Homo sapiens: one gene and its partners. The protein of the gene in region 3 purifies or fractionates together with the protein of the main gene of each other region. This does not show direct contact. Each region holds a gene or a part of one and is shown on either strand. Other genes may lie near its edges.

Region 1 (7,224 bases), on a different chromosome or scaffold from region 3:
CTAATGACATCACAGCCCTGCTTGTTTTGAACAGGGTAGGCACACTGTCTAAAAAACATGTGACCAGAAGAACGAGAAGCTGGGGAAAGCACTTGAGGACACAGACCTAAAGATGTGTTTTAGTGGCTGCTTCAAACTGTGGAGACAAACCCAGTACACAATTCTTAATTCTATCTCTAGAAAGCCAAGAGGTTCTGAGGCTCCATTTCATAACAGAGACTTGAACTGAAGCATGAACTGAAAACAAAAATGAAGAACAGCAATTTGCTAAACCTCAAACCAAAGACAAATATTATTCCTTTTGCTGAACCATGAACCAAGGGTTTAATCACTTTACAGTAGAGTTGAGGCTATTGATTTTTGTAAAACCACTGAACAACACAAATAAGATAAAAATATTCCCTGAAGTATTCCTCTTTGGTTGGAATCCTATTCTTGGAGTCAGGGATTCTTATAAAAGATGTAGAAAGATTAGAGTTTTTTGAGATCTTAACATATGAAACTGAAAAGCAGGGCAGAAACAAGGTATTCTCTTCCATCTCCTTTGTGGATCAGCCTCCTTAAAACCATGTAGGACTCACCAAGTGTTAAGACTGCATGAGGCCAGAGCCTGCTGTAATTCCTAGAAGACAGTGCCTTCCATGCAGGTAATTTCCTTGAATGTTTTCTGGCCTGCCCTCAACATTCCCTAAGTATCGAAAGATGACTTGGCTGGGTATGGTGGCTCAAGCCTGTAATCCCAGCACTTTGGGAGGCCAAGATGCGCGGATCCCTCGAGGTCAGGCGTTCCAGAGCAGCCTGGCCAACATGGTGAAGCCCTGTCTCTACTAAAAATACAAAAATTAGCCAGGCATGGTGGCATGTGCCTGTAGTCCCAGCTACTCGGGAGGCTGAGGCAGGAGAATCGCTTGAACCAGGAGGCCAGGAGGTAGGGGTTGCAGTGAGCCGAGACTGAGCCACTGCACACCAGCCTGGGTGATGGAGTGAGACTCTGTCTCAATTAAAAAAAAAAAAAAAAGGTCGGGCACGGTGGCTCACACCTGTAATCCCAGCACTTTGGGAGGCTGAGGCGGGCGGATCACGAGGTCAGGAGATGGAGACCATCCTGGGTAACACAGTGAAACCCCGTCTCTACTAAAAATACAAAAAAAAAAATTAGCTGGGCGTGGTGGTGGGCGCCTGTAGTCCCAGCTACTAGGGAGGCTGAGGCAGGAGAATGGTGTGAACCCAGGAGGGAGAGCTTGCAGTGAGCCGAGATCACACCACTGCACTCCAGCCTGTGCCACAGAGCAAGCCTCTGTCTCAAAAAAAAAAAAAAAAAAAAAGTTAAAAAAAACCCCTAATATTTAACTTATTTGCTATGAAATTCGGCAAATAAGCTATTTTCCCCCCACTAGACTGAAAGATCACTGAGGGCAGAAGACCTTTTCTGACTTTTCATTGCTATATTGTCAGCTACAGGGTTAGGCATTCAATAAACATTTATTGGGTGAATTCTAACTTGGATTTACCCCCTGGTTTAAGTCCTTGACTGATTACAATCTGACCGTGAAGGCTGGGCAGGAGAAACAGGTAGTGTCCAGATTCTCCGTAAATTCCAGAAAGATCCAAATGTGGTCCATCAGCAGGTGATGGGGCATAGTTTTGGTTCACACCAACTTACCCCACACTGACTTGAAGTATAGTCCATGAATTCAGCCATTGTTCTGAAGGAAGCACTAAGGGTTGGGGGTCTCTCTTCTCTCTATTTGAATAAATGGCACGTCACAGGTTAGCTCTAGGATTCCCTACTGGAGAATGAAGCCATTTTGGAAATAGTCTCCTTTTTACTTTTGGAAAGGCTCTGCAAGTTTATGTCAGAAAGAACGATGTTATTGAGAAAGAATTCCAACTCTAAAAGATAGACATGCAATTTATCCAGGATCTAAGAGACAGGCTTGCAGGCTTTCCTCTACTATCAGATGATAGCTGTAAGATTTTTTTTTTTTTTTTTTTTTTGAGACGGAGGTTTCGCTCTTGTTGCCCAGGCTGGAGTGCAATGGCGCGATCTCGGCTCACCGCGACCTCCGCCTCCCGGGTTCAAGCGATTCTCCTGCCTCAGCCTCCCTAGTACCTGGGATTACAGACATGCGCCACCACGCCCGGCTAATTTTGTATTTTTAGTAGAGACGGGATTTCTCCATGTTGGTCAGGCTGCTTTCGAACTCCCGACCTCAGGTGATCCGCCCGCCTCGGCCTCCCAAAGTGCTGGGATTGCAGGCATGAGCCACCGCGCCCGGCTAATTTTTTTTTTTTTTTTTAAGTAACCAACCAGGGCTGAACACTACCGTTATTCTACAGCTACCCAACAAGAATCTGTCAAATGTAAAGCGTTTTGAAAGGACTTTTCCATTCATTGTTCTGATCCTTTCCAGCTTCCGCTAAGGGAAGGTTTCCTCAGCTGCTTCTGCGCTGCGCACCCCTGGCTCCCAGCGGGCTACCGCGGCGCGAAGGACTGGGGCGGCCCCCGGCACAGCGACCCTCACCTCTCCCGGGAGAACGCGCTGCGGGCCGGCTGCCGGCTGTTTCTCTAGGTGGGGCGCCTCCCGGGCAAGGACCCCCATGCAGCCTTTGGGACGCTCCAGGGCATGCCAGTCCACCGCCCTCCTCTTGGCCCTCTCCAGCACTTCTAGAGCCAGCCTTGCTGAACGCTGCAGGGAACGTCGGTCCACCCCATTCAGCGCTGCGGCCGCCAAACAGTTGTCCATGGCTCCCTGAGTGGGCACACAACGTACAAACGCCGGCGGGTCAGCTGGGCCGCGGCGACCCTGCTCCAAATCCGGGTGGGAGCCCCAGCCTCGACCTCCCTGGAGACCACCGCTCCTGGTCCGCCCCCAACGCACACTCCAGCGGGAGCCCAGCCAGGACTAGGCCTAGCGCGCCCGCCCCTTCCATTTTCATCTACCCCTTCCGCTACTTAGGGAGCCCCCTCACCCGGCTCACTCGTCAAGGCGCATGCGCGCAACGCTATTCTAGGAAGAGGGACCAGGCCTAGCGCTCCCGGCGGCGCCGGCGCAGCTGGGCCATTGGCGGAAGGCGGGAGAGGCGGGAGAGGCGGGAGAAGTGGGGGAGGCGGGGCGGCTGGGCGGCCAAACACGCCTTCTGCGTCCCAGCCTTGGCGTCTGCGCGCGAGTTGCCTGGTTAACTGCTGAGCGCTGGAGGCGGGGCGCCGGGCGCTGGGGGCCGGGGGTCGGGGGTCGGGGGCCGGGGGTCGGGGGTCGGGGGCTGGGGGCTGAGGACTGAGTCGAGCCAGCAGCCCAGGGCATCTGTCCACGCTGTCAGAGGAGCCTCTGGGCGTGGGGCTGGCCCTTAGAGGGCTACTGCGCTGCTTAACTTGGTGGGTATAAAGGCAGGTCTCCTGTTGAGCTAAAAAATTATGGGGTACCAGCTAGGTAGGCAACATAGCGAGAACCCGTGTAGACACACACACACACACACACACACACACTAGCCAGGAGTGGTTATGGGGTACCAGCTAGGTAGGCAACATAGCGACAACCCGTGTCCACACACACACACACACACTAGCCAGGAGTGGTTATGGGGTACCAGCTAGGTAGGCAACATAGCGACAACCCGTGTCCACACACACACACAGTAGGAGGAGTGGTGGCGCGCATCTGTAGTCCCAGGTACTCGGGAGGGTCGAGGTGGGAGGATCGCTTGAACCCGGGAAGCGGAGGTTGCAGTGAGACGAGATCGCGCCACTGCACTCCAGCCTGGGCGACAGAGGAAGACTTCGTCTCAAAACAAAAACATCATGGGGAATAAGGCAAGTGCCTCCCGCGCCTCTTTCTGCTTGGTCTACATTTTGGGGTGTCGCTACTCTTGTTTGAGGAGGTGATTAGGCCAAACTGTGTGGCTGCCAAGGTGGCCTTTGGAGAAGGGAACAGCTCGGGATTGAGGCGAGACGGAGGCGGGGCTGTCTGCAGATGTTCCTGGCCCCCGGGGCAGGGGGCGCCTGAGAAGTTGTAGGGTCTCTCATAATCCCTCAGCGCAGCTCTCTCTCCCCTCCAGTGGGAAGTACGGATTCACATATTTTTGGAGACCTGTTCTCTTGGGGTCTGACTCCATCTTTTAGGAAGACTGCACCATGTTTAAGTAAGGAACTGTGAATGCTTACTTAAACCATGTTTAAGTAAGGACCTGTCACTCCACTCCGCTGGTTATTTGGTAGGAGATACAGCCCAGGCTCTCACTGCTAATTAGTGACTCAGCCGCACCACCCAGCGCAAAGCAAAGCGCCGATGCTTAGGAAGGTCCACTTTGAGGGACACGCTCAGTGGGGGTCACTTTAAGGAACACAAATAAATCCTCCTTTAAGTCTCCTCTGTGGTTCATGAAAAAGGAGAGAAACTCCATCCTCACCTAGTCTCAACAGATGGCTTGATGAGCAATTATCAGGTACCAGGTGAGTAGTAGCCGACCAATACGACCTCCTTCTATGCTACTTAACTTTTGCAAATTTCCTGCTTTCCCCTTATAAAAAAGAATAACAGTGAGTGAAACCCTACATTATTCTTGAGATGATTTTTTTTTCATTTTATTGGTATTCCAAAACATTTCCTTCAATAAGGGTTTATCAAGTGCCTCCTTTAGAACATAGTGGTTGTACGTGCATGGGGTCCTGTATATCCACTCGGGAGAGCTGGTTTGAATTCTGGCTCTGCCATCTTTTTTTTTCCATTTCTTCTCCTTCTCCTTCTCCTTCTCCTTCTTCCTCCTCCTCCTCCTTCCTCTTCCTCTTCTTCCTCTTCTTCCTTCTTCCTTCTTCTTCTTTTTTGTTTAATAAAGAAACGAGGGTATCACCCTGTCAGCCAGGCTGAAGTGCAGTGGCACGATCTCGGCTCACTGCAGCCTCGACCTCCTGGGCTCAAGCGATCCTCTTCTTCAGCCACCACGCCCTGCAAATTTTTTAAATGTTTCGTAGAGACAGGGTCTCCCTATGTTGCCCAGGCTCTCTGCCACTTTTTTGCTCTGTGGTTCTGGGCAAACATATTACTTCTTTGAGCCTCACTTTTCCTCATCTCTATATCTGGGGATTCCAATAGTACTAACTTCTTTAGACTGAGCTTCTTGAGGGAAGGGACTGTATCTGTAGTGTTTAGAGTTTAAGGTGCATCTAGTATTTACTATTTTGTCTGTCACAGTAAGGACTAAAAATAGCCCTTGAATGTGTGAATTGGGTTGCCATTAGGATTCTGTGAGATAATTCCTGTAAAATGCTTAGCACAGTGCCCGGCAAAGATAAGTGCTCCATAGACTTAGCTAGCATTAGTATGTGCCAGGCACTGCCCTAGGAGTTGTGGAGAACAGAATGTGGATCAGACTAAAGGAGAATAAAAAAGAGGAAAGAATGCACATAAAATCTATAATACCAAGAACAAAATATTCGGACATGCCATAAGATTGACACAGATAAAATGCTATCAAGCTTAGGAGACTATGTTCAGCTGGGAGGATCAAGAAAGGTTTTGCAGAGAATGTAGTTTTCAAGCTAGGCCTGATGGCCTAGGAATCAGTGAGAGAAGAGGTAGATAAGATACCCGTTAACTGCTTTTACAATAAGTGTGGTTGGAGTGGGACAGAATTTGGTCCTCTTTATTTTTTATGGATTTCAAGGTTTTAGCACATTCCTCATAGGGTTATTGTGAATATCAAGTAAGTTAATATCTATAAAGTGCATTTATAGTACTTGGTACATAGTAGGTGCTCAATAAATATTAGCTAGTATTATTATCTTAAGCTTCAGCCTGGTCTCCCAAAATATGCTCTCACTTACCCAGTATCATAGCCACACCTCATCTCATTTGTCTCTCTTCCCCATTCTATTTTAGTCATTCCAGTTGAGGCACTACTTTCTTTTTGTCAGGTCAGCTCTTTGAAACTTTTCCCAGTGGTTCCCAGTTGCCACCTCTGTTGCCATAGCCTTAAAAAAATTTTTTGTGTGTACTTTTCCAATCTAATTTAAATTATGTGTAGTTATGGTTTCTTCTCTCCCAATAGCCTTTCAATTCCTTGAAGGCAGAAACTGTTCCTTATTTGTCCCTAAACATTCCAGGACCTGTTAAGTAGCGGGTGTTCAGTAGCCATTTGTTGAAATTACTCTGATTTAATTTTTAAGTTAAATAGACTTCTGTTAGCCCACATAAAGAGGTGGCTTTGTGGTGGCTCACACCTGTAATCCCAGAAGTTCAGGAGGTTGAGGTGGAAGGATTACTTGAGGCCAGGAGTTTGACAGCAGCCTGGGCAACATAGTGAGACCCCTGTCTCTATTTTTTAAAAAATTAAAAAACTAGCCTGGCATGGTGGCTCATACCTGTAGTCCTAGCTACTCGGGAGGTTGAGATGGGAGGATTGCTTGAGTCCAGGATGTTGAGGCTGCAGTGAGCTATGATCGTGCCACTGCCCTCCAGCCGGGGCAACAGAGTAAGAACCTATCTTAAGAAAAAAAAGAGTTGGCTTTTCTATTAAAAAAACACCTACCTACATGAACTTTAATGAATGTAATGAATATTCAATTGTAACTACATTTTCTCAGAATTTAACATTTAGAAATTTATGGGAAAGAAGATGCTTGAAATGAAACTGAAACCAAAAGACTCTAAATTAAATCTTTGCATTTGTTTTTATTTTTCTATTTGTAAATATATTTGTAAATATATTTTTATATGTGCATATTTATAATTTTAAAGATTCATCCTGTAAACCACAGATTGAGAGACTTGAGAGATTCCTTTTTATCTTTTTTAAGATTGGCTGGGAATAATGATAGAACATGACCTACCATCAGGCCCCTTGTGGATCAAATATAGCCCACGCCAAATGAAAGCCACTGGTGAGAACTGAAAATGGAATTGTAAATGGAGAGAGGGCAACTAATTAGGAATGTGCCTGGTCAACAGGGAAATAGACTGTCAGTATTGACAGAAAAATAAACTATTGATATGAGTTTTTAATGACTTCTATCTTCACAAGGGTAAATTCACTAATGAGAACAGATGAAAGTTAGTTGTCAGGGTTCTATGTTTTGGAGGAGATGCGTTGGAAGAGGTCTTTAATTGTGAAATGGGGAAAGAGACTGGTGCTGTATTTGGGACTTTTTGAGGAGAAAAAACAAGTCCAGTGAAGAGCAATGTAAATTCCTTTTCTTTATGTGAAGGGGGCCAAAAAGGGTTAAAAACC
Region 2 (7,026 bases), on a different chromosome or scaffold from region 3:
GTATAAATAATGCCGATTAAGAATTAGTCCTGGAATAGTTTTCGAATTTCTAACTCTGTAGATCTAAAACACAATTGTAAATGGTATAAAGATGTAAGAATCATATTGTGATAAAGTCAATCTCAAAAATAGAGAATCCAGACCCTTCCCAGATAATTTAAGAACTGAGTTTTCCTCAACTTAAACATGATGGCCACACAGAAAACAGTAAAGACACTTTTCGATGTGATACAACTGTATAAAACTCGAGAATATGAGTATTTAGGTGACCAATGTATAGACATTAATAGAATTTTAAAAACACATTTAAATCTGAAGCAGAAAAAAAAAGACAATTTACAAAGAATTATTGAGCTCTAATCATCATCAGAGTCTGAATCATATTTCTTTCCTCGGATAGTTTTCTTTTCCAGCTTTGTGAAGTTTGTTCCAAATTTCTTTTGGTTCTGAAATGGTGGCTCCATTAAATTTCCACTTAAAAAAAAAAAAAAGCATTTTATTCTTTATGATTTAGTACTAGTATACTAAACTGCACAAAAATCTATCTTTGTTTTCTTCCTGTAACATAGAATAAAATTTCTTTAAAATGCTGGTGTCAGGGAAGAGGTATAATGCTTATATTGATATTGATGGTTAATAGCCTTAAACCTTATTGTGTCCTACTGAATGTTTTAGATCAATTTTATTTTCCTTTCTTTTTGAGACAGGGTCTCACTCTGTGGCCCAGGCTGATGTGCAGTGGTGTGATCACAGCTCACTGCAACCTCCAGTTCCTGGGCTCAAGCGATCCTCCCACCTCAGCCTCCCGAGTAGCTTGGACTACAGGCGTGTGCCACCATGCTCAGTTAATTTTTACATTTTTTGTAGTGATGACATCTCACTACATTGCCCAGGCTTGTCTTGAACTCTTAGGCTCAAGCAATCCTCCTGCTTTGGCATCCCAAAGTGCTGGGATTATAGGTATGAGCCACTGCACCAGACCTATTTTCCTTTTTATCATTAATTATGGATTAACATTTGGTTAACACAGTGCTCAGTTGTCACCGGAAATGAGAGAAACCATCACACACCTCCCGATATGATGCATCACTTCCATAATATGCCCGTCAAAAATCGATAATCTGAATCTAATCTTGAGGAAATTTAAGACAAACCCAAACTGGGAGATGTTCTCCAAAATAAACAGTTTGTACTCTTCAAAAACATCAGTCTTAAGAACCAAAGAATAACAATGGTAACTAAAGACGTAATAACTAAATGTGCTGCATTTTTGGTATGAAGGACAATTATTGGGACAATGAGAAAACTTGAAATAAGAGCGGTAAATTACACAATAATTCCTGTTTCAATAATTGTACTGTCGCTACGTAAGAAAATGTTCTTGTTCTTAGAAAATATATATGGAAGTCTTTAGGAGTAAAGGGACACTGTATTCACAATTTCCACTCAAATGGTTCCCAAAATACTTCATAGTATCTATAAAGACAATGATAAAACAAATATAAAATGTTTAAAATTGGGTAATATGGGCAAAGGGTCAATGAGGATTCGTTGTACTAGTCTGCAGGGGGTTGTTTCTACTAGTTTTTTGTAGAGACGAGGTCTCATCTCACTATATGTTGCCCAAATTGGTCTCAAACTCCTGGCCTCAACTGATTCTCCCACCTCAGCCTCTCAAAGTCTGTAATCTTCTGAGATTACACAAGTGCCCCACCCGGCTGCAATTTGTTTAAGGCTTAAAATTACTTCAAAATATATAACTTTATTTAATAAATATTAATATTTTATGTTAATATTAAGGAAATGAAACCAATTTCTACAACATAGGAATGATTTCGGCATGTCTAGGAGAGTCAGAGAAAAGACGGGAGGGAAATGGGGGAGAAAGAAAAACGTGAGAGAACCTTCTACTTCCTGAAAGGCACCATGACTCTGGAATGGTAAGTGCACAATTTTACCTGTTACTTTTGCAAATCAAGAAAAGGCAAAAAAGACAAGATGATATGCTCTGATTTGTGGAATTAGATAAATTATTTGTCTGAAGAAGTGGACAAAGAAATGGAAGTTGGATTTTAGATTGTTTTCAAACTAAAACTGTTCTTCATAGCAAGCAATGTAAGCTAGGCATAGAAACCTTTTTCTATTCATCAGCCTCTATAAGTAAAACAGAAATATCCATGTTAAAAATCTAGTATTTTAAAATATAACTTTCTTTGCAAGAGTCTGCTTTTAATTTTTATTTTATCAAAGAGAATCACTTAAGTCAGAATTCATTTGAGCAATCTGGCTTAAATTGGGGAATAGTCAACACTGGATTGCCATTTTAAGTTTCCAGATTAATACAAAATTAGTGTCAATAGTATACGTTAAGCTGAAAACTTTTATAGTCAGGAGTACGGTGAGACTCAGTTTTACCTATTAAATCAGTTTAATCTGTAAATCTGATTTTGCCGTAAAATCACGCTAATATTACACACTTCAAAAAAACATGCTTTTCCTTTGAGAAACTTTCCACATCTCAGCCAAAATGCCTTAATTTCATAAAATAAATGTTACAATACAAAAATCTTTTGTAAAAATATCAACTATATATGAATTAAAATCAATCTCTTCTTTTGTTAAAAGTTACCTGTAATTAAGAATGTCAGAAGAACCGAGCCTCCATTCTAAAGTTTCTGTGGTGAAGTCATCTGTATTTCCTAGGTCAGTAAACCCAACAACATAATCTTGTGTTTTCCCATCTTTTAGCAGTGCTAGTGTGGGAATGACTTTGATATGCAGTCTCTCACAAAGGAAAGGTGCTTTTTCCACATTCAGCTTCAAAAATTTGGTCTCGAGGTGTTTCTTGGACAATATTGCCAGATGTCTGTCTAGTATTTTACACCTGTAAGTGACCACACATAGAAAATTATAAGCTAAAACCACAGATCGCTTTTTTCAAAATAAATATCATCAAGGGAAATCTAATTATGTAGTTTTTCTGTTGACTCTCATAACATGGCAGCCAACTTAAACTTGTGTCAGATGACCTCACTTCCAGATCAGAGGTTAGCTGCCTGATTACGAGATGGGAAAACAGCCTATAAGATTCTAGAAAGTCAGATTTGCATTAATGATATTCTCTTTTAAAATATTAAATATATGCTTTAAGTCATAAAGGAAGTTGTCCTATCTCCTACACAGGAAACTTGAAGAGGAACAAACTGAAACTTGACAAAACTCGGAAGAGACTTACAAGAATCAGAAGTGCACACATGGTGCCATATTTGGAAGTCATGAAGAAAAACTGAACAGCATTACCGAGGAAAAACTTCTTACTCCTAAATATGCAACGCTGTCAGTAAGAAGCACATTAAGGCTAAGGGTTACTAATAATATTTAAATAAATGTGGCCATTATGCTTCTAGGAAATTAAAAAATACCAGTAGTAACTTTTTTATTTTTTATTTTTTTGGAGGTGGCGTATTGCCCTGTCCCCCAGGCTGGAGTGCAGTGGCACAAGCTCGGCTCACTGCAAGCTCCGCCTCCCTGGTTCATGCCATTCTCCTGCCTCAGCCTCCCAAGTAGCTGGGACTACAGGCGCCTGCCACCATGCCCGGCTAATTTTTTGTATTTTTAGTAGAGACGGGGTTTCACTGTGTTAGCCAGGATGGTCTTGATCTCCTGACCTTGTGATCCGCCTGCCTCGGCCTCCCGAAGTGCTAGGATTACAAGCGTGAGCCACTGCACCCAGCCTACCAGTAGTAACTTTTATTAAGCCATCTTCCAATGAAGACGGAAACAGAAGTGAGATTTTCTTGGCCAGGTGCGGTGGCTCACATCTGTAATCTTGGCACTTTGGGAGGCTGAGGCAGGCGGATCACTTGAAGTCAGTAGTTTGAGACCAGCTTAGCCAACACGGTGAAACCCTGTCTCTACTAAAAATACAAAAATTAGCTGGGTGTGGTGGTGCATGCCTGTAGTCCCAGCTACTTGGGAGGCTGAGGCAGGAGAATCACTTGAACCTGGGAGGTGGAGGCTGCAGTGAGCCGAAACTGTGCCGTTGTACTCCAACCTGGGCAACATAGTGAGACTCCATCTCAACAAACAAAAAAAGTGACATCTTCTTTACATTAAAATTTATTTTCTGGCCTGATGCAGTGGCTCACGCCTGTAATCCCAACACTTTGGGAGGCTGAGGCGGGCAGATCACTTGAGGCCAAGAGTTCAAGACCAGCCTGGTCAATATGGTGAAACCCCATCTCTACTAAAAATACAAAAATTAGCTGGGCGTCATGATGGGCACCTGAAATCCCAGCTACACAGGAGGCTGAGGCACGAGAATCACTTGAACCTGGGAGGTGGGGGTTACAGTGAGCTAAGATTACACCACTGCACTCCAGGCTAGGCGACAGAGTAAGACTCTGTCTCAAAAAATTCATTTTCAACTGGCCAATTCACGAGTGTTTCTAAAACAGACTATTGTAACAATCTTTTAGACCGGTGGTTCTTAACCCCAGGTGTTCATTATGATCAACTTTTATTTATTCATCTTTTTTGAGTTGGACTCTCACTCTGTCACCCAGGCTGCAGTGCAGTGGCGCGATCTCGGCTCACTGTAATCTCTGCCTCCTGGGTTCAATCGATTCTCCTTCCTCAGCCTCCCGAGTAGCTGGGATTACAGGCACCTGCCACCACGCCCGGCTAATTTTTGTATTTTTAGTAGCGATGGGGTTTCACCATGTTGACTAGGCTGGTCTTGAACTGCTGACCTCAAGCAATCCACCTGCCTCAGCCTCCCAAAGTGCTGGGATTAGAGGTGTGAGCTACCACACCCAGCCTGCCGTCAACTTTTAAAATATCCAGATGAATCAAAATTCTCTGGCAGTGGAGTTGGGAAACATACAGCTGTTCTTATGCTCAAATAAAGCTTGAGAACTACCTCTAGATGACTCACACACAAAATACTTCATGGTTATTTTTACCAGTAAGCTTTTTGTGCACTTGATGTAGTTTTTCCTGAACTAAGTTTGGCTCTAACATAAGTTATGTGTAACCTTGGTGCCTCATCACTTTTTCCCCGGATATGTTTTTTCATATGTTACTCATGTAGTTCAGTAACGAGATTTCAGTGAAAAATGGTAAGAGAGAACAAATTAATAAATGGTTTTTAAATAAAGCTCAAAACAAATGATAAATCAACCTTTATATGAGAAATATGTTCCTGAAAATTTGTAAATAAATCAACTCCATACTTTAACTGCAGTAAGGAACGTATTTTTTTTTTGAGATGGAGTCTCGCTCTGTCGCCCAGGCTAGAGTGCAGTGGCACGACCTCTGCTCACTGCAACCTCCACCTCCTGGGTTCAAGCAATTCTCCTGGCTCAGCCTCCTAAGAAGCTAGGATTACAGGCACCCGCACCATTGCCTGGCTAATTTTAATTTGTATTTAAAGAGCAAGACAGAGTGTCTTGCTCTGTTGCCAGGCTGGAGTGCAGTGGCACGATCTCAGCTCAATGCAACCTCCGCCTCCCAGGTTCAAGCAATTCCCCTGCCTCAGCCTCCTGCACAACTGGGACTACAGGCACGAGCCACCATGCCCAGCTAACTTTTTGTATTTTAGTAGAGATGGGTTTTCACCATGTTGGCCAGGATGGCCTTGATCTCCTGACCTCATGATCCACCTGCCTCAGCCTCCCAAAGTACTGGGATTACAGGCATGAGCCATGGCGCCCAACCCGTCAATCAATTTTTAAAAATCCAAAACAACAGTCATGGTATAAATAGCTATAGGCCTTTACGTATGTTTAAAAATAACTAAAAGAGCATAATTAGATTGTTTATAACACAAAGGATAAAAGCTTGAGGTGATGGATATTCCATTTACCCTGATGTGATTATTAAACACTGCATGCCTGTGTTAAAATATCTCATGTACCCCATATTTACCTACTACTACCCACAAAAGTTAAAAATTAAAAAAATAGCAATAGGCTTAAAACATGGGTTCCAATCTCTCTCTTTTTTTTATCATTTAGTATCTGAGTGATACTAGGTGAGTCAATTTCTCCAAATCTTGGTTTCCATACATGAAATACAGGAATAATAATAAGTGCCTCTGAAGATTATTGTGAATGTTCTAGGGATAATATACATGAAAGCATCCTGCCTACTATGTGCTAGGAACTTTGCTAATATATAAAGTTCACTGGATGATTTTGATTTTTCAGTTCTGTTTGAAGGTGAGTACTCCTGGTGATGCACTGTTTATACACCATCAAATGTATTTATTGACCACCTACTATGCGTCAGGCAGTTGCTTTAGGGCTATGATCCCAGAGAACAGTAGGTCACAATACAGGCAAATGCGCTGCCTCTACAAAACGAACAATCTAGTTGGGAAAGACATAAAAAAAACAAGTGAGGCCGGGTGCCGTGGCTCATACTTGTAATCCCAACACTTTGGGAGGCCAAGGTGGGTGGTTCACCTGAGGTCAAGAGTTTGAGACCAGCCTGGCCAATCTGGAGAAACCCTGTCTCTACTAAAAAGACAAAAGTTAGCCGGGTGTAGTGGTGGGTGACTGTAGCCCTGGCTACTCGGGAGGCTGAGGCAGGAGAATCACTTGAACCCGGGAGGTGGAGGTTGGAGTGAGCCAAGATCCTGCCATTGCACTCTAGCCTGGGTGACAGTGTAAGACTCTGTCTCAAAAACAAAAAAAAACAACAAAAAAAAAACAAGTGGACAAATAATATTTTACATACTAGTATATTTATATATCACCTCATCATATTTGTCAGAGGTTGGCAACTTGAGGAATGTGTGCCAATGCGAGATGGTTGTGTACCATAAGGGCAGAGGTTTCTCTGATACCTTTCTACCTGCCTAATCCCTTCTCTCACTGTTCCTCACAAGGGATTTCACCATCTCAATATTTTGTTTCATTTTTATTCTCTTAGTCAATGAATACCAGGCAATCAATTCTTGAAAGGTGTTAACTAACAATGAAGCTGTTGGGTTGTGAGATCAAGACAAAGGGGCAAGAAGGC
Region 3 (7,026 bases):
TCCCAAGCTGGGGAAAGGATACCATGCCATCTCAGCTCCATTTCCGTTAGTGACATCAAGGGTCCTTTGCGTCCTTCATGTGAGCTGGACTGGAGACCACTCTTCCTTGCTTCCCCATCCCCCACCCCCTGGCTTTAACACCTCTTTTCCTCGTGGGCCACATGTGTCCCTCTTGCAGCCTCGCTCTACCCATGTGCTGGCATGGTAGAGGAGGATCTGCAGAGTCCCAGCCTGGCCTCAAGAGCCAAGGAGATGAGGAATTGGGGAACCTCTAAATCCTGCCTTGCCCCCCACCCCAAGACCACATATCCACATGACAGCCACCTGGAGCTTCACTCATTCCCTGGACGTGCCCATGGCCTCTCCAGAGCCACAGGCAGCCAGGACCTCTCTTCCTCCCTCGGGTGAAATGGCCCTGCCAAGCATGCCCCTATTGCTGGCCACCACCTCTTGTCAAGGGATTTTGCTCTTACTGAAACTGCTACACTACGAGCCTGTGTTATGGCTGCCAACCTACGCTCCAGAGGGCAGGGCCCATATCCATCTCAGTGACGAGGGTGGTCAGGGCCACAACTAACATTTATTGAGCAGCTACCTAGGGCCAGGCATGGGCCAAACATTTCCCAGATTCATCTCCCTTAATTCTCACCATGAATGTGGCAGGCAGAGCCCACAACCACCAGCACATTACAGATAAACATACCAGGGCTTGGTGAACTAAAGGGATTTCCCCAAGGTTGCACAGAGGATAAGGAAAGGTCCAGGCTCAAACTCATAGCCTAGGTTCTCAGAAGCCCTGACTCACTACTCAGTTCCCTGGCATGCCCCTGCAGTGCCCATCCAGCAAAGAGTGGGAGGAATAAACAAACACAGTGTTTCTTTCAAAGCTCTTCAGTGGCCCAGGCCAGCTCTAGGTGAGCACACTCCAGTAGTACCCAGCATTGGGGATTTTGGAGTCTAGTGGTCTGGCCAGGGCTTGAATGGCTCCAAGAGCCAGGATCCCCGGGAAGGCTCTGCAATGTCATTAATATGGACTGGAAAACAGGTCCGTTATAATTATGTTTTTAAAAATCCAGCACCTGTTGTCCAACTTCAAACGGTCCAAATGCGGGACCAAGTGCAGATGACGGGATGACGGGTGAACCCACAGTGTGGCCTACCTGAGTGAGGACATCCAGCTGGCCCACAATGTGCTCCAGCGTGCTAGTCAGTGTCTGGGGCACACTCACGGGCTCCTGGGGCTGGCTCTGCACAGACTCCACACTCCTGCCTCTGCCTGGGGGGACAGGGAAGTCCACTTCTGGCTAAAGACAGAAAGAAAAAAGTTCCTCAGTCTATCCAGTGCTTGAAGAAATACTGTGAGAGGAATAGCCCCTCCAAAGGATGAAAGGGAAAACCACCAGCAAATTTGAGAAGGTAAGCTCCAAGTGTCAGTAAGAAACAGCAGCGTGGCGGTGTTCCCACATCTGGGTCCACACACATACCTTTCCAGGCAGAGGCCTTAAGTGGGGAGTGGAATCAGAATGCCTTGTGATCCAGGCAGGAAGGGGCCTGGGGAGGAGGGCAGGTAGGCAGGCCAGTGAGTGGCCTCAGCCTGCTCTTGGAGCCCCTCAGGGAAGCTAGCTGCCTCCCATATCTTCAAGCAGCTGGCACCCACCAGCAGGCATCCAGGTGAGTCCAGAGATGCTGAAGCCTGGCCTGGGCCTGAAGTCCCTCCTCTTCCTGGTCAGCTCAACTCTAATTCCCCACCCTTCAACATGGGGGTGTGCCAGGCTTCACAAATGCCTTTCCCAGGCCCAAGAAGCTGTGGCCCAGAACTTGGTGGAAGTGTGTGTGTGGCGGGGAGAGGGGTGTTCCAACCCCACCCTGGCCCAGATCCCCTGGAAAAACAAAGATTTCTGTGTGCATGTCCCAGGCTGGCACATGGCTGGCAGGAATCAGACTCCACAGGAAAGGCACCCCTGGGCTGCTTCAGATAGGACTCCAGGAGGTGAGGGGCTTAGTGTTTCTGCGTAAGGCCCTTCAGCCCCTAAATTCAGCAAAGTCAGCTCCTTGCCTTATGCACAAAGGCTTCTGTGGACCGAAGAAGTGCTGTGCACATGTTCAGTGGGCGGGATGCTGGAGCCAAGGATGTCCAAGGGCAGGGCTGGTCTTAGAGCCTGCAGTTCCTCTGTGGACTTGTTCCTGTGGGAATGTGGTTCAGCACATGGACCCTACCTGCATGTTTTCCTTTATTAGGTAAGTATTCTATTCTCATAGATCACAAACTTTCAAGGGCATGCTGATTTGAACTTGGAAAAATGCTGGCCCTCATGGTAGCTACAGGAGAACTTGAATGTGAGACATGAGCCAGAGGGATGTTCTTGACAGCATGAGCAGCACCGTGTCCACACACCTATCATCAGCATGTCGGCCACTTCCGTGGCCATTTCTAAGACTTCGGCCATCAGGGCTGGGTCTCTTCCAGTCCTCCAGGAATCAACGTGCTTCAGATCTCAATGCTTACCCAGAAGCCCATCCCAAAAGGAAATTTCAGAAGTCCACCAGCCTTGCCAGGAGAGACTTCAGCCTACCACAGTGGCCCCCAGACTAAGGCAGTTCTGTCAGGAGACACAGCAGAGTGCAGTGGTGAGGAATGGTGACTCAGACAGTCACTGACCAGCTCTGGGCCTCCATTTCCTCATCTATAAAATAGGGATGAAGACTGGGCCAGTCCTTCAAACGGCTGGGCTGTGAGAGGTGCTTATCTGAAGCTACCAGCAGGCCTTTCTTAAGAAATGTTCAGTGCTGTGCCCACTCCTTCCAGAGGACCCCCTAGCAGTGCAGACACACACTCTTCCACTGGAGGAAGGGTGTGAGCAGGGAACTCTTCTGTCCCACAGCCAGCATTGTCATGGAATGGGCCAGAGTCTGGTGCTGCTGGCTGCTTAGGAAGGAGGGAATGGAAAATGTGAGTTTCTGCAGAATGGCCCAGAAATGGACAGTGCTGAGCTCAGCCTCTGGAAGCACAGTGGATGCTGCAGGGAGGCAGGGTGAGTACCACTGACTTTAGCAATAGAAACCCTCCTGGATGAGCCAAAGCTGAGCCAGCTCCAAGGGAGTATTAAAGACAGCGGCCATGGCACTCCAAGCTGGAGAGGTGGCCTTTACAACAGAGGGTTGCGGCAGCCACCATGTTTTCCCACCTATACCACACTTTCATGGGCTGTCTCCATTTGACAATAAAGAGAACTAAGGCTCAGTCAGAAAACGACTGTCTAAAGGTAACCAGCCTCAAACTCTAGTGCTGCCCTGAGCCATTTCCCTGCCTCCTTGCCCACTCCCATCAGAAAACACCACAGCACTTAACACTCCACCAGTCCAGCAATCGCCATGGTTTACTTGCCATCCACTGTGTGCCCTCATTTAATGTCACCTCACTTAATACGTGTAACCTCACTTCATCCTTATGATGGCCCTTCCCAATAGGCATTATTAACCTTATTTTTCAGATATGGACCCTTGGGCTCAAAGAGGTTAAGTAACTTGTTCTAAGTTACCCAGCAAATAACAGAATTGGGATCTGAACCCAAAGTGCAGGCTCTTCCCGGACATGAGACAGCCTCTGGCAGGTGACATTGACTGCAGCTGGGCTTCCATGTGCACAGTTCCTCTCCAACGTCCCCATGGAGGCCTCTGAATCCTAGGTCTAATGCTTTTTGCGTCACTTCCCCAACCCAGCTGCCCTGGAATGATTGCCCAGCACAGAGCTGAACTCAGAGCAGGCCCTCCACAAACACTCAACACCTCAAAGAGCAGGGCCCACCGAGGTAAAATTCCTGTGTAATGAATCCTCCCCAATGTCTGCACTGCAGCAAAGGGCCAGCAGCCCCACCCCTCACAGCTCTGTAGCCACTCACCTGCATGCCAGCACTCTGGAGCTGTGGCATTTCCCTGAGAGCTGGGCAAATAAGCAAGAAAGCAGAGATAAGAAAATGACACACAAGAGTGGGAAGAGACAGTCGTACCAGAGCCATGAGTAATGACAGTGGCAGAATAACCCAAGCAGCATTTAAATGCAAAAGTCACATCAGCATTTTGTCTGTTCAACATCAAAGAGTCCTAGGGGTTTTGCCTGGTGGTTCTCAGTTAAGTATAACATGAATAAAATAACACAAAGAGGCCAGACACGGTGACTTACACCTGTAACCCAACCACTTTGGGAGGCCAAGGCAGGTGGATCACTTGAGGACAGGAGTTCAAGACAAGCCTGGCCAATATGGTGAAACCCTATCTCTACTAAAAATACAAAAATCAGCCAGGCATGGTGGTAGGCACCTGTAATCCCAGCTACTCGGGAGGCTGAGGCAGGAGAATCACTTGAACCCAGGAGGTGGAGGTTGCAATGAGCTGAGATCACACCACTGCACTCCAGCCTGGGCAACAGAGCAAGACTCCGTCTCAAAAGAAAAAGTAATGCTCACTAAAATAACAACAAAGATTAATCCACACATATACTCGTATAGGCCTACACCAATTCAACAACATTTCACTTTTGCCAAATATAAACATCTTAATACCAAAACAAAAAAAGGTGACTCTCAAGAGATGGCTCTAACTTTGGGAAATATCACTTGGGGTCTGCAGGTGTCTCCTCTCATGCCACCCTGGGGTGGGACTCTGGCCTCTCACAGTTGGTTAATGTGTTGCCCACCTCAGTTCCTGTTTCCTCTGCTGCCTGCTTTTCATACACCACCAGGAGCTCATCACTTCACACACAGTAGGAATTGCCTAAATGTCTGTGGCTGATACTCAGCTACCCAGACACATGAGGAACCAAACCATAACATTTCATTAAAAACAAAAGAAACAGCTTGTAGATCTTCCTTGTGACAAGAAATCAACCCATCTGGAGTTGACTTCTTGAGAGGTCTCTGAATTGACCGTGATCTCCCTCTTCCATCAAGATACAAGTATGGATAAGGAGCTGCTGCCTAGGATATATAAAGCTGGGGAAAGTGTTAATTCCTTCCTAACAAGAAAAAGACTGACAATCTAAAAGAATCATAACTTCTCTTAAATCAGAGAGCTGAAGTCACAGAGCAACCAGTAGCCTGAAATCTAAGGAAAGACAGACACTTCCAAGGAAAATAGAAAGTGAGCATCAGCTGTGGGTCACCTATGGCAAAGCATGAGGAGAAGAGACGCCAAATACCATACGAGTGGGTAAGTTACAGTTTTAACAAACTGCTGGAGACCAAGCGCAGACTAGGGTAAGAGTGCAGAACCCCCAGGTGCCACAGACACAAGTAGAGCTTGCACCCATGCACAGGTTCTCCTCCACAGACCTCCACTGGGCTTTCATGACAAAAAAAAATGGGGGCAGAACAGTAGATGGAAGAAAACCGTTCTTGGAGGTGCAGGCCTAGGAGAGGAGAGTGAGTAAGGAAAGGTATGAAGCCCTGCCAGGACCTCTCCCCTGTAGAAGAGCATCCTGAAACTACTAGGGAAAAGCAAATATAAAAACACCTCTTCCCTTGAGGGAGAGGCAGGAAACTATCCTGAGCTGAGATTATCAAGGTCTCCTTTGAATGAGGAAGGAGCAGGACCGCTAAGAATGTCTCACTTTTGAGACCCAGGGAGACAGAGTCTGCTTAAGACTGAAGCTGGGTCAAGACAACAGGGCCCACCCCAACCCTCAGCAAAAAAAAAAAAAAAAAAAATATCAAGCACCAAGCAATAAGCAACAGCAGCCTATCTAGGGAGGAGGGCCAAGAACATGGAAAAAAGCATGCCCCTCTGAGGGGCATGCCCACAGGGCTGGCTGAAAGGTGAGAGTGAGGAAAATGACTGAGAAAATCCTCCATCAACCAGACCTCATCCTAGGTACGTTAGGTAACACTAAACTAAGCTCAACTCCTGATAAGACTATTTACCTCAGTCTTTACTGTCCTAAGCATGATGCCTGGCATTTAATAAAACATTATGAGACACAAAAAGGCAGGGAGAAAAAAAAACCCCACTGTCAAGAGACAAAGCAGTCAGTAGAAGCAGACTCAGATGACCTAGATGTTGAAACTATGAGATACAAAATTTAAAATAACTATGATTAATATGGTAAAGGCTCTACTGAATAACACACATGATCAAATGGAGAATTTCAGCAGAAAGGCAGAAATTATAAGAAAGAGTCAAATGGAAACAACAGAAATAAGAAACCCAGTAACAGAGAAGTATGGCTATAATGGGCTCAATGGGAAAATAAATTAGTGATCTTAAAGATAGATCAATTCCTCAAACTGAAACACAGAGGGATAAAACAGAACAGAGCTTCCATAAGCTACAAGACAATACTGTCTCTAACACATGGACAATTGGAATCCTAGAAGGAGAAGAGAGAGAAATTAGATATTTCTTATAATACAAATTTGCTGGTAAAAAATTGTCAGCTTTGGTTTTTCTGGAGGGGAAAAAAAGGTCTTATTTCCCCATCATTGCTAAAATATTTTTGCTAAGTACAGAACTTTGGGTTGGCAGTTTTTCTTTCAAACTTTAAAGATGTTACTCTTTCAGTTTGTATAGTTTCACGAGAATTCTTCATAATTCTTACATTTGATCCACATATATATGTCTTTTTTTCTCTGGCTACCTTCAAGATTTCTTTCTTAATCCTTGGTTTTCAGAAGTTTGAATATAACTCATCTAGGATTTTGTTTTGTTTTGTTTTTCTCCAGCTTGTTTGCTGTTTCTCTGAGCTTCTTGGAACTATGGTTTGATGCCTTTCATTATTTTTTGAAAATTCTTGGCCATTATCTTTTCAATAGCACCAAAACAACATGAAGTATATATTATTAATAGTTTCCTAGGGCTGCTGTAACAAATTGTCACATTTGATGGCGTAAAACAATCTAAATTAATTCTCTCACAGTTCTGGAAGTCTGAATCAAGGCAGGGCCACATTTCCTCTGGAGGCACTAAGGGAGAATGCTGCCTTCCCTCTTTCAGCTTCTGGTGGCTCCATAATTCCTTTGCTTATGGCTACATAAC

Evidence for each region.
Region 1: the proteins of POC1A (region 3) and AKIP1 purify together in Homo sapiens (co-immunoprecipitation; 2 studies listed by BioGRID and IntAct, with this or other methods). This does not show direct contact.
Region 2: the proteins of POC1A (region 3) and TXNDC9 purify together in Homo sapiens (affinity purification with mass spectrometry; 2 studies listed by BioGRID and IntAct, with this or other methods). This does not show direct contact.

Annotation. Positions count from the first base shown.
Region 1 is NC_000011.10:8,906,973-8,914,196, reverse strand, and holds the start of AKIP1 (A-kinase-interacting protein 1), read right to left. Parts: upstream 3,009-7,224; 5' UTR 2,974-3,008; exon of another isoform or gene 2,754-2,973; 5' UTR 2,748-2,753; coding exon 2,526-2,747; intron 1,745-2,525; coding exon 1,664-1,744; intron 1-1,663. UniProt on the Homo sapiens protein: Enhances NF-kappa-B transcriptional activity by regulating the nuclear localization of the NF-kappa-B subunit RELA and promoting the phosphorylation of RELA by PRKACA.
Region 2 is NC_000002.12:99,319,326-99,326,351, forward strand, and holds part of TXNDC9 (thioredoxin domain-containing protein 9), read right to left. Parts: intron 2,885-7,026; coding exon 2,630-2,884; intron 2,459-2,629; exon of another isoform or gene 1,801-2,458; intron 475-1,800; coding exon 357-474; 3' UTR 1-356. UniProt on the Homo sapiens protein: Significantly diminishes the chaperonin TCP1 complex ATPase activity, thus negatively impacts protein folding, including that of actin or tubulin.
Region 3 is NC_000003.12:52,095,409-52,102,434, forward strand, and holds part of POC1A (POC1 centriolar protein homolog A), read right to left. Parts: intron 1,305-7,026; coding exon 1,161-1,304; intron 1-1,160.